2 separate regions of the Homo sapiens genome follow, and region 2 is linked to region 1. The links come from fine-mapping of genetic effects on gene expression. Tissue or cell type: lung. Region 1 holds a variant in brackets; the other region holds the start of a gene. All regions are shown on one strand. Distances are from middle to middle.

Region 1 (8,105 bases):
CAAAGAACTCTTAAGCTGGGCATAGTGGCTCCCGCCTGTAGTCCCAGCTACTCAGGAGGCTGAGGTGGGAGTATTGCTTAAACCCAGGAGTTCAAGGCTGCAGTGAGCTAGGATTTCACCACTGCACTCCAGCCTGGGTGATAGAGCAAGAGCCCCATCTCAAAAAACAAAAACAAAAACCTCTTAAAACTCTACAATAAAACAACCATTTAAAAAATGGGCAAGAGGTCTGAACAGACACCTCACTAAAGAAGATATCCAGATGGCAAATAAACATATGAAAAGATGCTCAACATCATATCATATGTCATTGGGATGGGACATATTAAGACAACGATGAGATGCCACTACACACTGTGAAAGGAAAATATCTTGGGGCTGGCCCAAAAATCACTAAGCTAAAGGGAAAAGTCAAGCTGGGAACTGCTTAAGGCAAACCTGCCTCCCATTCTATTCAGACACCCCTCTGCTCACTGAGATAATGCGTATCTGAATGCCTCCTTTGAAGGGGCTAATCAGAAATTGAAAAGAATGCTACCATTTGTCTCTTACCTACCTATGACTTGGAAGTTCCCTCCCCACCTAGAGTTGTCCCACCTTTCCAGACTGAAGCAATATTCATCTTACATATGTTGATTGATGTCTTCTGTCTCCCTAAAATGTGTAAAACCAAACTGTGCTCTGACTACATTGGGCATACATAGTCAGGACCACCTGAGGCCATGTCACAGGTGTGCATCCTCAACCTTGGCAAAATAAACTTTCTTTTTTTTTTTTTTTTTTTTTTTTTTTTGAGATGGAGTCTCACTCTGTCACCCAGGCTGGAGTGCAGTGGCGCGCTCTCGGCTCACTGCAAGCTCCGCCTCCCGGGTTCACGCCATTCTCCTGCCTCAGCCTCCCTAGTAGCTGGGACTACAGGCGCCCGCCACCACGCCCAGCTAATTTTTTGTATTTTTAGTAGAGACAGGGTTTCTCCGTGTTAGCCAGGATGGTCTCGATCTCTTGACCTCATGATCCGCCCGCCTCGGCCTCCCAAAGTGCTGGGATTACAGGCGTGAGCCACCGCGCCCGACCAAAACTTTCTAAATTAACTGAGACTTGTCTCAGATTTTCGAAGTTCACATTTTGGTAACCACAGAGGGATTCTACGTGGAGGTGCCCCTGACCTTTGACAAATCTCCTATTGGTGCTTGGCACCAGCTTGAGCTATCTTTATGGCTCAAACCAATAGGACAATTTGCTGAGGCCTGGAAGCACACCCTCCAGAGAATCTCTGATTTCCCAATATTTGATTGAGATCTAAAGTTTATTTTGCTGTGCAACTCTTTTTTGGAGTTTTACTTGCTTCCAACACAAGGAAGGCAAGTTTTTCCTGCTTCCATGACGATGGAAAGCAGGTAACTCCTTTATGGAGTTTCAGCTCACTTACAACAGGGAAGATGAGGTTATTTTTTTCCTGCTTCTAGGATGGTAGAGAGCTGTCTTCAGCCTGAGACCCATCCCTAGGTAAGTAACTGAATTGGGGTTTCTCTTGGCTAAATTTAAGATTAACCACCAGCTGGTGTGGTGAGGGGAGAAAAACAGCCAGCAGAAGAAAAAAAATGTGGAAAAATTTTGACTACTAAGGGGCTTTATTTACATAACAAGGCCACCATTTTGCTAGCCAGGCTGAACTGAAAGAGCAATGGCTGTACTTCTGAAATAGCAGCAATTGTCCTCACTGAAATATGGTAATAAGATTTAAAAAGATTTTTTTAAAGGAGCTCAATAGTTAAAAGTCACCATTAATTTAAAGCTAACATCCAAGATGTGTGTGTATCTGTGCATATGTGTGTTTATATTTCAAAGGCCTTCATATTTTTGTTTTGTTTTTCTTCTAGGACCTTGTCTCTTTTTTGAACAAAAGTTTTTTCTTCTCAGTTGACTGAATTCTTCATTTACTTCTGCTATCTCTCCTTTCTCTTGCACCCTCTGCTGTATGAGGGACCTAAAATAGCTTATAATAGCCTGGAGTTCCTTAAAGCAAACGGAGAAGGCACCAGACTCCCTTTAGGGGAGAAACCTGTTTTTCCTTATGGAATCCCAACAGTGTAAACAGACAAGTTTGTCTAAGCCCTTAAACTGCTTGCTTTTGTATGGTGTTACCTGATTTATTGACTAAAATAGTTATTGCAACAGAGGCTACTCTTGGGTTTTTAAAGAAGCATGGGGTGTAGACACTTAAAAATGTCTTTGTTACAAAAAAAAATTTTTTAAGTCCCCTGTAAAAACATCACGTGGTTTAGCCTAATAGTAATTCTCCCTTTTTGGAGACCCAGGATTCAGTGTGGGCTCTGCCCAGAGATCCAGGTAAAAGACAGGTAAGACCTATCTAAATAAAATTGGTCTCCTTGTACAATCCTATGATACGTTTTTATAATTTTATGTTTGATCTGGCATCCATCTTTAATCTTCCTCTAGCACACCAGACTTTTTCTCTCCATACCTTATGATGTAAATTTTGCTATTTGATTTTCAACTGAGTTGTTTCCTTTAATATGCAAATTTAAGGCTACTTAACTGACAACTGCCTAGGGCTGTGAAACAGGTTATCAAGAATCTGAAAGTCTGAAATAGAAAAAAACAGGTTTTTATGAATCTATAAAATGTGCTTCTATTTGCATGCCTAATATCTCTATGTATGTGTGTGTTGTGTACACAATGTTTCACTGCTGAAAATATATAAAAGAGCTCTAATTAATTGTCTTAAGAAAATAAAAGTGTTTGAATCAAATACTTTATCAGGAAAAAAGAAAAGACTAGTCAAATGCTTTTTCAAGTTTACATACCTTAAGTAAGTACAATCTTTTTTTTTTTTTTTTGAAAGAGAGTCTCGCTCTGTCACCCAGGTTGGAGTGCAGTGGCACAATCTCAGCTCACTGCAGGCTCTGCCTCCCGTGTTCACGCCATCCTCCTGCCTCAGCCTCCCGAGTAGCTGGGACTACAGGTGCCTGCCACCATGCCTGGCTAATTTTTTGTATTTTTAGTAGAGACGGGGTTTCAACATGTCAGCCAGGATGGTCTCGATCTCCTGACCTTGTGATCCGCCTGCCTCGGCCTCCCAAAGTGCTGGGATTACAGGCGTGAGCCACTGTGCCCAGCCAAGTAAAATCTTTAATAAATAAGCTAGTTTTAAAATTATTGGTAATGGTCAGGCGCGGTGGCTCACGTCTGTAATCCCAGCACTTTGGGAGGCCAAGGCGGGCAGATCACAAGGTCAGGAGATCGAGACCATCCTGGCTAACACAGTGAAACCCCGTCTCTACTAAAAATACAAAAAATTAGCCAGGCATGGTGGTGGGCACCTGTAGTCCCAGCTACTCGGGAGACTGAGGCAGGAGGATGGCGTGAACGCGGGAGGCAGAGCCTGCAGTGAGCCGAGATCGCACCACTGCACTCCATCCTGGGCGACAGAGCCAGACTC[C/T]GTCTCAAAAAATAAATAAATAAATTTAATTATTGGTAATTTAATATTAGAAATGTCTTAAGAATTGCCAGCATACATCTTTTTGTTTGCATTTATTGACCAAGCAATTTCATACTTATCCCTGCCAAATACTACAAGGTGTCAAAATTTGACATGGGGGTTACAAAACTATAAAGCCAGCCCAAAACATAATGACCTTTGCTCATGTCGTCTTTAATAAATAAGACACTGACATTGATTTAATAAAAATAGCTGCATCTTGAATTTAATAAGATTACCATACTTCTATCTTGTGGCTTTAGGTGGTCTAGTCCACAGGCAGTAAGGTGTGTTTTCGGAAAGGACTGTTATCATCTTCGTTTCAAAGTGAAACTATAAACTAAGTTACTCCCAAAGTTCAGGAATGAACAAGGACAGCTTGGAGGTTAGAAGCAAGATGGAGTCCATTAGGTCATATATTTTTCACTGTCTCAGAATTTTGCAATGGCAAGTTTCATAACTTTAAATGATGACTATTGCAGTTTTCATAAATCTGGGTAAACAATTAAAATAGATAAATGTAATGGGATAAATACTTGCAGACAAACTTGTCATAATTTAGAATCTAAAGTTAAATTAAATAATAGGTATATCATTATTTGGGTATTTTCCAATTAAAATATATTGTAGGAAAACATTCTTTCTATTTAAAAAAATGTATCCTGGCCAGGCAGGGTGGCTCACACCTGTAATCCCAGCACTTTGGGAGGCCGAGGCAGGTGGATCACCTGAGGTCAGGAGTTCAAGACCAGCCTGGCAAACATGGTGAAACCCTGTCTCTACTAAAAATACAACAATTAGCTGGGCGTGGCGGCAGGTGCCTGTTATCCCAGCTACCCGGGAGGCTGAGGCAGGAGAATCACTTGAACCCGGGAGGCGGAGGTTGCGGTGAGCAGGGATCACGCCATTGCACTCCAGCCTGGGCAACAAGAGCAAAACTCCCCATCTCAAAAAAAAAAAAGTGTCCTTTTAAAAAAGGTGAACAATTTTTATCTGATTTAAAGTTTATTTAAAGGTCATGTATAAAACAAGGTAAAAGGAACAAAGAAATAAGAGAGATGTAAAGAAAGTTATGAAAATAAAGAGGGTTTTTTGGTAATCATTTAAAAAAGCTTAAAGAGAAATAATTTCATATGAGAAAGAATCTTGTGTGGTAAATTTAGTCCTAAAGTAAAATAACTGGTTGTTTAAGAAAGGGATGTTCAAGACAAACCAGAAAGTCCAAGCATGTCATGAATGGTCTGTATAAATCACAATAAGAGGATTTATAAAAACAAAAAAAAGTTTATATGATCAAGTTGTCATATTATTATTAAGCTTTGGTTTGCTTAGGGAAAAAATTGAGAATAAAATTTGTTTAAATTAAGGTTATTACATCTGTGTATCTCTCTGTATGCCCTTTTAAAGTACTTGTGACATTGAGTTACAGGGCTTTGACTCCTGGGTCCAAAAAGAACACCAAGTCTTGCTAAATCTTAAATACTGGCAGCAATTAAAGCCTCATCTTCAGGCCCAATAGAAGATGCTAATCAAAACAAACTGCATTCCTGAGACACAGGGCCAGAAATTAAAGCTATTCAACTCCTCAAGGCCCAGGGACTATTGCAGAAGAGGTGGGCATGTGAGATTGTAAGGGCTGATTTTGAGAGATAAAATAAGTTCAGTTTCTCTATAAATTAATCATTAATGTCAAAGGCACACTGATGCAAGACCAGCATATGGGCCCCTGTGTCAAATTAACAAGGTTTTCTTGAAGCATTAACCAACTCCTTATTAAAGGTTATAAAGGTTTATGGAAGTTATATCTTATGGTCAAGATAAAAATTTTATAGATTGCTTATAAAATTTTGGAAAAAAATTTAATTGTCTTCATGCCGTTTTTATTAGGGCTTATCATTTGGAAAATTAAGTCTCCTGTCTCAAAGAATGAAGGTTTTTGCCTTTTTAAAAAATCTTTGAATTATTACTTTGGTTAAATGAATGACTTATTTTACAATGGCCTGGGATCCTATTTTGTAATATCAAGTGTTTTAAACTTTTGGTATTTGACAAAGTTTCCAAAATTAAATGATAAATTATCTCTTTCTGACCTAAGTAACTCTTTAAGATATTAATAGGTTCCCTAAAGTCCAAAAATGACATATTTGGCTTACTTGGTATAAAAATTATACAGGAAGCATTGACAAATATGAAATGGTGTTTGGTTTTCTTTGGGCTGTATTTGTATAAATATGTTAGTCATATATGTTCCAAAATTATGGGAAACTCCTATAATACTGATATGACTTAATGTATGTTATCAGTAATAATTGTTACATTAAAGTATTACGTGCCACAGAAGTGACAGATTTCCTGTCAATTGTGTCTTTGACTATGGCTGCACTAAAACTTTTTGTCATCCACAGACAATTTTTGTCTTGTTTTGGTCCTCTTTAGAAGGTGGTTTTATAATCAGCTATAAAACTCTAATAGGTGCTCTTGAATGCAGGTTTCTGATAACTTTGGAGATTGTGACATCAGAATTAAGGAAAAACTTTCAGTACTCATGGAGAGCTTAAATGTTCATGAATATCACGCAGAACAGGAATTCACTGCATAGACTAAACTAATAGAAGTCTGAAGTAATCTTTTTAACTTTTTGCTTAAAGTGTTGCTGATCCTTTGTTTCGTTTTTCAGAATGAAGAAAACTTTTCTTTTAAGCTATTTACAGCTTTTAACAATTGAGTATGCACCCATGAACAAAATTTGGAGTCTATTTGTTTCTCTCTACCTGATTTCTACATAATTTGGAAACTGTGAGTGTTCTTAACTTATGACAATACAGTTATTTGCATAAGTGCAATAAGAATCTGTTTTAATTTGTAACAGGACACAACTGGAGAAACTAGTTATTTTACTAAGGCTTTGACTGGAATGGTGTGCTTTAAGGAATCAAACTTGACTTATAGAGCCAGTAGGAACCCCTTGGAAAAACTGGCCTCATACCTTTGTCTACAGTTCCTGTACAGGGTTTCTGACCTGTGATAAGTAAAGAATGTCACTTTCTGACAGGCCCAGGAGCACCAAGTTTATCTTGGAACCACAAGAGGAGAGGAATCACCCAACTCATAGGTATTTGATGGTACAAATCCATGGCCACGTTCAGCTTTTAAAAAGTCTTATCTGAGATTCCTTCTATGGAACAAAGTTCCATCAAAGCCAATTTAAAAGCCTATGTAAAAAAAAATTATCCTTGCTGCACTATATACAAATAATTAGGCCAAGTATAATAATGCAAATCAGTCCCATAATGATCTGTCTTTAGTAAAAATGGGAAACTGGAGAGAGAAAAATTGTTTCAAAAACTATAGTACACATGTTGCTAGATTCTAATCTTGCCTAATATTTTTCATTTTTATTATTTTTTACAGTTTGGACTGAATTCTAATTTTTCTTAGCTACAACTCTTCAAAATAATGTTTCCATTATTTTTCCTTTTTCCCCATTTTTCATAATTTGGAGTCAATAAAAACTAAGCTGTGCTTTTGTAAAGTTGTATGGCCAGGCACAGTGGCTCTTGCCTGTAATTCCAGCACTTTGGGAGGCTGAGGCGTGTGGACCACTTGAGGTCAAGAGTTCATGACCAGCCTGGCCAATGTGGTGAAACCCTATTTCTACTAAAAATACAAAAATTAGTCAAGCGTGGTGGTGCATGCCTGTAATCTTAGCTATTCAGGAGGCTGAGGCAGGAGAATCGCATGAACCTGGGAGGCAGAGGTTGCAGTGAGCCGAGATAGTGCCACTGCACTCCAGCCCGGATGTCTCAAAAAAAAAAAAGCAGCAGCTCCTTACCCATCAGTCCCTCTGCAGAGCAGTCAGTGACTATTATTACGTTTCATGCATGTCCTTCCAGAACATTTTTATCCATATCCTACATCAGGAGCCTTTTTTTTTTTTTGGAAAAAGTCTCACTCTTGTCACTCAGGCTGAAGTGCAGTGACATGGTGACAGCTCACTGCAGCCTCAACCTCCCAGGCTCAAGTGATTCTCCCACCTCAGCCTCCCAAGTAGCTAGGACTACAGGCATACCACCACACCCAAGGAGCTTCCTTTTAAAATTCAAATGAGAAATAAACTCTGTAAGTATATAATGTGCTATAATTTACTTTTTCACTTAATTCTGCACCTGTTTCTTTATGGGACATAGTGGTTGAGTACAAGTTCTGGAGAAGACAACCTGTGTTTGAATCAGGCTCTTTCATTCACTGTATTCATAGGCAAGGAGTTTAACCTCTGTGCCTCAGTTTCCTCTTCTGTGAAAGGGAGAAAATAACAGTACCTATCTCCTAAGTTATGTAAATGAATTAATACCTGTAAAGTGCTTGGAAAAACAGCTGGCACATAGCTACTGTCATTTCTACTCTCCAAAGCTTCCTTGTGATAATTTTCTTGTCTCCAGCTGTGGGTCTCCATCTGGGGCCACAGTGGCAGTGATGGCTTCTCCTATGCTGATGGTGGCCAGGCCAACATGATGGTAGGGATAGTCAGGGCTGGTCAGGGCATTCTGGTCCTAAACTACTAATTCCTTGCCCCTAAACCAACTGCTCTGTTGCAAAGCACTGG
Region 2 (8,105 bases), 49 kb after region 1:
TGGGAATATAACCCAGCAGATTTGGCTTTTTCTGGCCTTTATTCAAGATGGAGTCACTCTGGTTAGGTTGCCTGACACAAGTGCACAGAGACTGATATGCTCAAAGGGAAGATGATGTGAAGACACATGAGAAGACAGTCACGTAATGCCAAGGTTTACCACAAGCATCTGCACCAAGAATTCGATGGATGGGCCTTTAGGAACTCCCAACCAATTTCCATTAGCCTCCCTCCCAAACCCTTCTCAGAATAAACATATAATTTTAAAAACAGTTTTGAGGTTCAGTACCCAGTATCTTTTTTCCAGTCCTATTGCCTCCTTTATAGCCGTATTTTATATATATATAATTTTTTTTTTTTTTTTGAGACAGAGTCTCACTCTGTCACCCAGGCTGGAGTGCAGTGGCACGATCTCGGCTCACTGCAACCTCTGCCTCCTGGGTTTAAGCAATTCTCCTGCCTCAGCCTCCCGAGTAGCTGGGAATACAGGCACAAGCCGCCACACCCGGCTAATTTAGTTTCACCATGTTGCCCAGGCTGGTCTGGAACTCCTGAGCTGAGGCAATCCACCCTCCTTGGCCTCCCAAAGTGCTGGGATTATAGGCGCGAGCCACCGCGCCTGGCCCAGTCCTATTATAGTTTTTAGCTGCCCCAAGAGGACAGGTTTACATTGTAGAAATGCAATCCACTTCAAATTGAACCACAAGCATAACTTTTAAAAAATGTTCTGTAGCTGACAGCCTTTGCATAAACTGTGTCAGTGAGAACATTTTGTCAGTGGGAGAGATCTGATTTCACCAACCGGCATCTTGCCTTTGCCTTTAGCCTTCAAGCTACCTTTAATTATTCCTGGACTTCTGGGCCAAGCTAACTTTGGGAGGCATTTAGGTTATAGGTTAAATGATAATGGCCCTTCCCCAAACTTTACGCTAAATGACCACCAGGCTAAGAAAATAGAGGAGGCTGAATTCTGCTAAGGATTGCCAGCCATTATTCCTGAGGTCACAAAATATGCAACTTCTCCAATTACTCCTGCAGACACCATCACTATTGTAGAACCTAAGATTAGCCTTTTGAGATATCTTTTCAGGTTTTTTTGCATGTCTGACACCTGGCTCCACCTGGACCTACCAACTGCTCCTGCGGCCCCACCTGGAAGCAAATCCGCGCAAGAAGACAGCTTCAACTCCCTGTGATTTCATCTCCAACCCAACCAATCAGCAGCAAGCATCCATTGCCTAGCCACCTCTGCTCCTACCCCTAAACTGTCTTTGAAACTACTCCTCAGAGACTGATTTGAGTAATTATAAAACTCCAGTCTTCCTTTCAGCCAGCTCTGCATGAATTAAACTGTTTCCCCATTGCAATTCCCCTGCCTTCATAAATTGGCTGGCTCTATCTGGGCAGCAGGCAAAAAGAACCCATTGGGGGATTACATAGCCACTCCTCATCGGAGAAATTTCTACTGGCTCTTCTTCCAGCCTCAACTCTCTTTGGCTAATCTTTCTCTATATGTAGCCTTCACTTCTTTTCATCTTTCTCTCTTCTTTCCTCTCCTAGGAGCAAAACAAAATTTCTCCTGGGCCGCACAGTTTGGCAATTATCTTTTGTTGCCTTGGCTGCAGCTACTATGCCATCAGCTCCCAACTCCTAACTTCAATGAACCAAGGAGGTATTTTTCTTAAACAAAGACCACTCCAACCCTGAAGATTGGAATTTCGCCACTGCCTGTAAGGATAACAAGCTTTAATCTGGTTTCTACATGTGGTTTTTGTTTATTTTGTTCCTGTGATTATAAACTGTAATGAAAAAAGAAAATGTTACTGTAATACTTGATATCATGTATTTATCCATGTATCCAACCTTCTTTCCATCCTATCCATCAATCCATCTTATATTCTGGATACTTTTTTTTTTTTTAAGAGACATGGTCTCACTATATTGTCCAGGCTGGTCTCAAACTTCTAGGCTCAATCAATCATCCCACCTTGGTCTCCCAAAGAGCTGGATTACAGGCATAGGTCACTGTGCCAGCATCTGGATACATTTCAAAGAAAATTGTATACATTGGTACACCTTCCCCTAAACACTTTAATATGAATATCATTAACTAGAGGTGACATTTTATTTATATTTTTTCCTTTTGAAGTCATATTAGCGTATTATAAAATGCACAATTTTTTTGTGCGTGTGTGAGATGGGGTCTTACTCTGTCACCCAGGCTGGAGTGCAGTGGCACCATCTTGGCTCACTGCAACCTCCACCTCCTGGGTTCAAGCGATTCTCATGCCTTAGCCTCCCGAGTAGTTAAGACCACAAGCAAGTGCCACCACACCCAGCTAATTTTTGTATTTTTGTAGAAATGGGGTTTCACTATGTTGGCCAGGCTGGTCTCAAACCCCCGACCTCAAGTAATCTGCCCACCTCGGCCTCCCAAAGTGCTGGGATTACAGGTGTGAGCCACCTTGCGCCCTGGGCTGTAGTGTTATTTTTGTGGCAAAAAAATTGAAACCCTAAAATTCTGACTGCAGTGGAAGGGTAAGTGTATTTCAAGCCCTAGTGATACAGACCAACTTGGAAGCTTCAGACAGGAAAAGTTTGCTAGATAGTTATTTATTTTTAACTAAGCATGTACTTTTATGTATCTCCCATATGGCATGGAACACCTGCTCACTGCAGCCTGGAGCTCCTGGGCTCAAGTGATCCTCCCACCTCAGCCTTCTGAGTAGCTTGGACAGCAGGCGCGTGTCACCACATCAGTTAATTTTTGTTATTTTTTGTAGAGAGGGGGTCTCAATATGTTGCCCAGGCATTATGGATTTTATGCATTCGGGACCATCCCATGCTTAAAGCATGACAGAACCCGGCGGCATATTTTTCTCTGCCGCAGCTTTCAGTGCAGGGGCACCTCACAGGCAGGGCGGGGTCAAGGCTCTGTCCAGACAATGGCTGCAGAGTAAAAAGCACTTCCATTTATGGGGGTCAAGGGCGAGGGGAGGGAGAAAGGAGCAGGGAAAGAGGAGAAGTGGCCACATGTACTTTGATTTGTTTTTTGCTTTTTGTTACATGTACTTTTGAAGCAGTATTTAGAAGTAGCCTCTCCTACAGCCCCTGCTGTAGCTTGTCTCCTAGCTGTGAGGTGAGTTATTCAGTACCCTCTAACGTAAAAATGACCTTCAGACAGACAGACAGACACACACACACACACACACACACACACAGAGGAAAACAGCTCTGTCATCCACTTTTTCTTCCTTTCCCGTCCCCAGACCCTCGATTCTCTCTTTAAAATGACTGCTGTGAAGATAACGTAACACAGAGTAATACTAATGACAAATTATCAAAAAAGAAAAAAAAAATAAAAATCTTTATTAGTGTTTTTTAAAATGACGTAAAAGACTATGGGAAAAAATGCCAACAATAGTTATGTATAACTTTTTTGTTCATATTTCCAAAACGTTTATAACATACATAACTTTAAAAGAAAAATAATTTAAAAAATACATATCTGAAAATGAAACCCCGCTGTTTGCCAACGACCAGCTGGCTTAATCTGACTTCGCAGATGTAGCAGTGTTGGAAAACGTCGGTTCTTTTGCTGAGGGAAGGAAGAGATGGGAGGGGTAGAAAGGGCGGTGGTTATTCCCTTTAGTATTTCGATCCGGTCACACAACCTAAATCCAACATCTGCATCAAATGTCTCCTTTCCGAAATACTCTCCCTAAAATGACAGAGAACCTGGCCAGGCGGACAGAACGGCCCCTGCGCATTTGCAGGGGTCCTGGTGGGCTTGCCGGGCAGAGGGCGTGCGGGTCTCAGCAAGCTGCCGGGTCCGCCCAGGCCCCGCCCCATGCCCATTCAGGCCCCGCCCCCGACCCGCAGGCCCCGCCCCCGACCCGCCCCGTCCGCCTCCGTCACGTGATGGGGCGCCGGGTCCAGCCTGTTGCTGATGCTGCCGTGCGGTACTTGTCATGGAGCTGGCACTGCGGCGCTCTCCCGTCCCGCGGTGGTTGCTGCTGCTGCCGCTGCTGCTGGGCCTGAACGCAGGTAGGTTCAAGCAAGAGGCGCACCAGCTGCCATGCCTCTTTTTTCTCCAGGCGTGAGAGTTTGTTACTGGGTTTGTGCTTTTGAAAACATGTCTCTTTTCCCCGGTTCTTACCTTGTGTAATTATATTGCTTTTGAATCTCACTCTTTTTTTTTTTTTTCCTTAAAAAATTCAAAGTGCTTTTTTTGTCCTTTTCTGGCTCTGGGTGGTCTGAGTGCTTCCGTTCTCTCCTACGCCTAGATAGAAGCTGTGTGCAGAAATGTATGATTTGGGGAAACTGCTGGTCAATGAGGTTTCCCCGATTCAAAGGCCATGATTGGCTGCTAAATGAGGATATAAGGTCGTTTTATTTTAAGCTGAAATCTGCGGTCAAAAGTACCCTTACATCCTACCACGAATGGGACATTTCATTGAGATAAGGCCCTTTCTTTTCTTGATCAAAACAAACAAGATAACATCTTCCCCCACAGCGATCTTTTTTGGCAAAAAACAGATTTGTGTTTAATAGGATGACTTGCAAATTGATTTTCAGCAAAACCTCTCCTAGTCTGAAGCAAGCACTGAGAATTGGAACTGGCCACAAGCTTGCCTTGTGACCTTAGGCAAGTTGTTGAACAGTTTTGTTTTCCTTTTCTAAAATGGGGATCATCTGGCCCTTAGGCGAGTGTCTGGGAGATTTTGTAAAATAAGTAGCTCTGCCAATTTTACCAGTAGTCACTGCCAGGCAAGGGAGAAGTGCCTGGGGTTAGGTCAAAAGGTACCTGCGCCTTATCTGTCATTCTCAAGGGAGCGCAGCCTTATCTGTTATTGTCAAGGACAATATAATCGTGTGTTACTTGTATATAGAACCTTATAGCTAAGTCTGTAATGTTTTAGTCATCTGTTTTGCTCCTCAGGACACTTTCTGGTTTTCTTAATCTTCATTGTTGTTTTGTTTTGAGTCAGGGTCTCACTATGTTGCCCAGGCTGGTCTGGAACTGCCTGACTCAAGTGATCTTCCTACTTCAGCATCCCAAGTAGCCCGGACTGCAGACACAGGCCACCACCCTGGCTCTTTCTTATTTACAAGACGTTGTCTCATTGTCTTCCTCTCTACTCCTGTCTCTTTAGCTGTTGGGACCAGTGTTCTTTTACTGACCAATGGGGCTTGAAATTTGAGAAGGGAGGAAATAGAAGGCAGAAAACTCCAGTCACCGAGGGGATCCCCCCCATCATCTTTTAACAACAGCCCCTCTACTTTTTTTTTTCCCAGAGTGGTTTTGGAGGAAAAAAAAAAAGATGCTATAACTTGGAAATTGTTACGTTAGCAAAAAGTGACAAAGAAAATGTATTTAGCCTACTCTTTTCTAAAACATATTTTGTGGATGCTAGAAAAGTTAAGTAAGGAAAATTGGAGTTAGGGGATTATAGGATACGTATATTAAACACACATACACAGATATATATCGTTCAGTTTAAAAAAATCATCTACATGAGTTAGGAAAATTGCCCTTTTTCATATTTGTTGTAGCTCTTTCCTTGCTGTTTGCCTTTTTATTTTTGATTTACAGAAATTTTGTTGTATAGAAATATAACAAGTTTCTGTTCTCACCTCCATCATTGTTTCTTTTGTACAGTCTCTGGGGTTTGCTTAGATTCTTTCCTCATCCAGACATTAGAAATATATTTAACTATATTTTTGTATTTTTTTAATGTTTAAAGTTTAAAATTTAATTGCTTGATCCTCATGGAACTTATTTCGTTTATAGTGTTGAGAGGACCTAAATTTCTCTTTTTTTCTCCAAAAAAGGTAATTGTTGCTCCATTACTGTATATTGAATATTCTCAGCCCCACTAATTTGTGATGCCTCTTCACTCATGTTTTTTGTTTGTTTGGTTGGTTGGTTTTTTGTTTTTTTGAGATAGGATCTCCCTCTGTCACCTAGGCTGGAGTGCACTGGTGTGATCACAGCTCACTGCAGCCTCAACCTACTGGGCTCAAGCGATTCTCCTACCTCTGTCTCCTGAGTAGCTGGGACCACAGGCATATGCCACAATGCCCAGCTAATTTTTGCATTTTTTGTAGAGATGGGGTGTTGCTATGTTGCTTAGACTGGTTTTGAACTCCTATGCACAAGCTATCAGCCTGTCTTGGCCTTCCAAAGTGTTGGGATTACAGGAGTGAGCCACCAAGCCTGGTGTCTTACTCATGTATTAAATACGATATAAAAACCAGTATATTGCATTCTGAGATTTTTACTTTTTTACTCAAAATATAAATCTCTCTTGTTTTTACAGAATTATAAAAGTATTTCCTGTAATCCCAGCACTTTGGTAGGCCTAGGCGGGCAGATCACCTGAGGTCAGGAGTGCGAGACCAGCCTGACCAACATGGAGAAACCCCATCTCTACTAAAAATACAAAATTAGCCAGGCGTGGTGGTGCATGCCTGTAATCCTAGCTACTTGGAAGGCTGAGGCAGGAGAATCGCTTGAACCCGGAAGGCAGAGGTTGCGGTGAGCCGAGATTGCGCCATTGCATTCCAGCCTGGGCAACAAGAGCGAGACTTCGTATCAAAAAAAAAAAAAAAAAAAAAAAAGTGTTTCATATTTATTGTTAAAAATCCAAACATTACAGAAAAGTGTAGAGGAAAAAGTGAAAGCCCCTGGCCTCCTATGCCGCTGTTAAGTTTGGTTTCTTTTTTCATAGCCGAGGTTTTTTCCTTATTCCTGCAATGTACTGGGGTGGCTAAATTACCAAACTATAAAACAAATCATCTCTAGCCTAGCATGGCTGTCTCTACCAGGCTTGGAATTTACCTGTACATTAGGCACTCTTCTGGAGAGTGAAATTGAACTTCTGTTTCAGGAGCTGTCATTGACTGGCCCACAGAGGAGGGCAAGGAAGTATGGGATTATGTGACGGTCCGCAAGGATGCCTACATGTTCTGGTGGCTCTATTATGCCACCAACTCCTGCAAGAACTTCTCAGAACTGCCCCTGGTCATGTGGCTTCAGGTAAAGTAGCTTCCCAGCCTGGCCTGAGGTCAAAGCCAAGTCTCCTCTGTGTGGCTCTTTGCTTGCTTTTTGGGCTGATGTCTCAGCAGTGAAGGGCGGATTTGGTCCAGCAGTGTGACCTGGGGGTTCGGCGTGCTTCTGAGGTAGGCTGAGGCAATGGTATAGCCAAGGAGGCTAAATCAGAGGGCGAGGGGGTTCTAGCCTTTTGCCAGAGTCTCTTTATATTTCCAGACGGTCACAAGAAGGCTCACTGAAAACTCCTGATGATACATTTGAATACATAGTGATAGAAAGTGTTTTGAGGCCGGGCACAGTGGCTCATGTCTGTAATCCCAGAACTTTGGGAGGCCGAGGTGGGTGGATCATACGAGGCCAGGAGTTCGAGACCAGGCTGGCCGACATAGTGAAACGCTGTCTCTACTAAAAATATTTAATACAAAAATTATCCAGGCATGGTAGCACATACCTATAATCCCAGCTACTCAGATGGTTGAGGCATGAGAATTGCTTGGACCCGGGAGGCGGAGGTAGCAGTGAGCTGAGATCGTGCCACTGCGCTCCAGCCTGGGCGACAGAGCAAGACCCTATCTCAAAAGAAAAAAGAAAAGAAAGTGTTATGGAAGGTTCCAAAGCAAAGACCTGAGGTAGCCTGACCCTCCCTTCCTCTCCATACAATCCTTTCCTGAACCCTAACTTCTTACCCCCAGAAAACCTGATCTTTTGAAGGGACTGCTACAAGCCTTCTGCACCTTCGTGTGACTGTTGCGCCTTCCCCCTTTCCCTGAGTGTGTTTGCATTTTAACCTTGAGCTCTGATTGTAGGATGGAAGGCAGGGAGCTGGTTGAAAGATTTGTAGGGACAGGCAGAGGCTCTTTTCTGGCATTTCTGAAATATCTGTCCAGAGATGGCCCACCCCCACCCGGAAGACCACCCACCAGGGAGGAATTAAGGAACATGGTCTTGCCTCTGGAAAATGTAGGCATGGCCCAGCTGGAACCCTGGGCCCCTCATCAGTAAATAGGGACCCTGGTGCTCACCTCCATAGGATGCTACTGGGACGTCTT

The links. PIP is the estimated chance that this variant, and not a neighbour inherited with it, causes the effect.
Region 2: it holds the start of SCPEP1, and the variant in region 1 is fine-mapped to the expression of SCPEP1 in lung (TOPMed, PIP 0.98).

What each region holds. Positions count from the first base shown.
Region 1 is chr17:56,924,815-56,932,919 of GRCh38, forward strand. No RefSeq gene overlaps it. Among named protein-coding and RNA genes, the nearest start is that of TRIM25, 15 kb to the left of the region's middle. RefSeq lists an enhancer at 214-748. The variant C/T (reference allele first, on the strand shown) is at 3,464.
Region 2 is chr17:56,974,190-56,982,294 of GRCh38, forward strand. SCPEP1 (serine carboxypeptidase 1) reads left to right here and starts at 3,942. Exons shown (of 13, transcript NM_021626.3): 1 at 3,942-4,046; 2 at 6,893-7,041. The coding sequence starts at 3,971. LOC105371836 (a long non-coding RNA gene) reads left to right here. Exons shown (of 4, transcript XR_934875.4): 4 at 1,560-1,818. RefSeq lists a silencer at 3,825-3,884.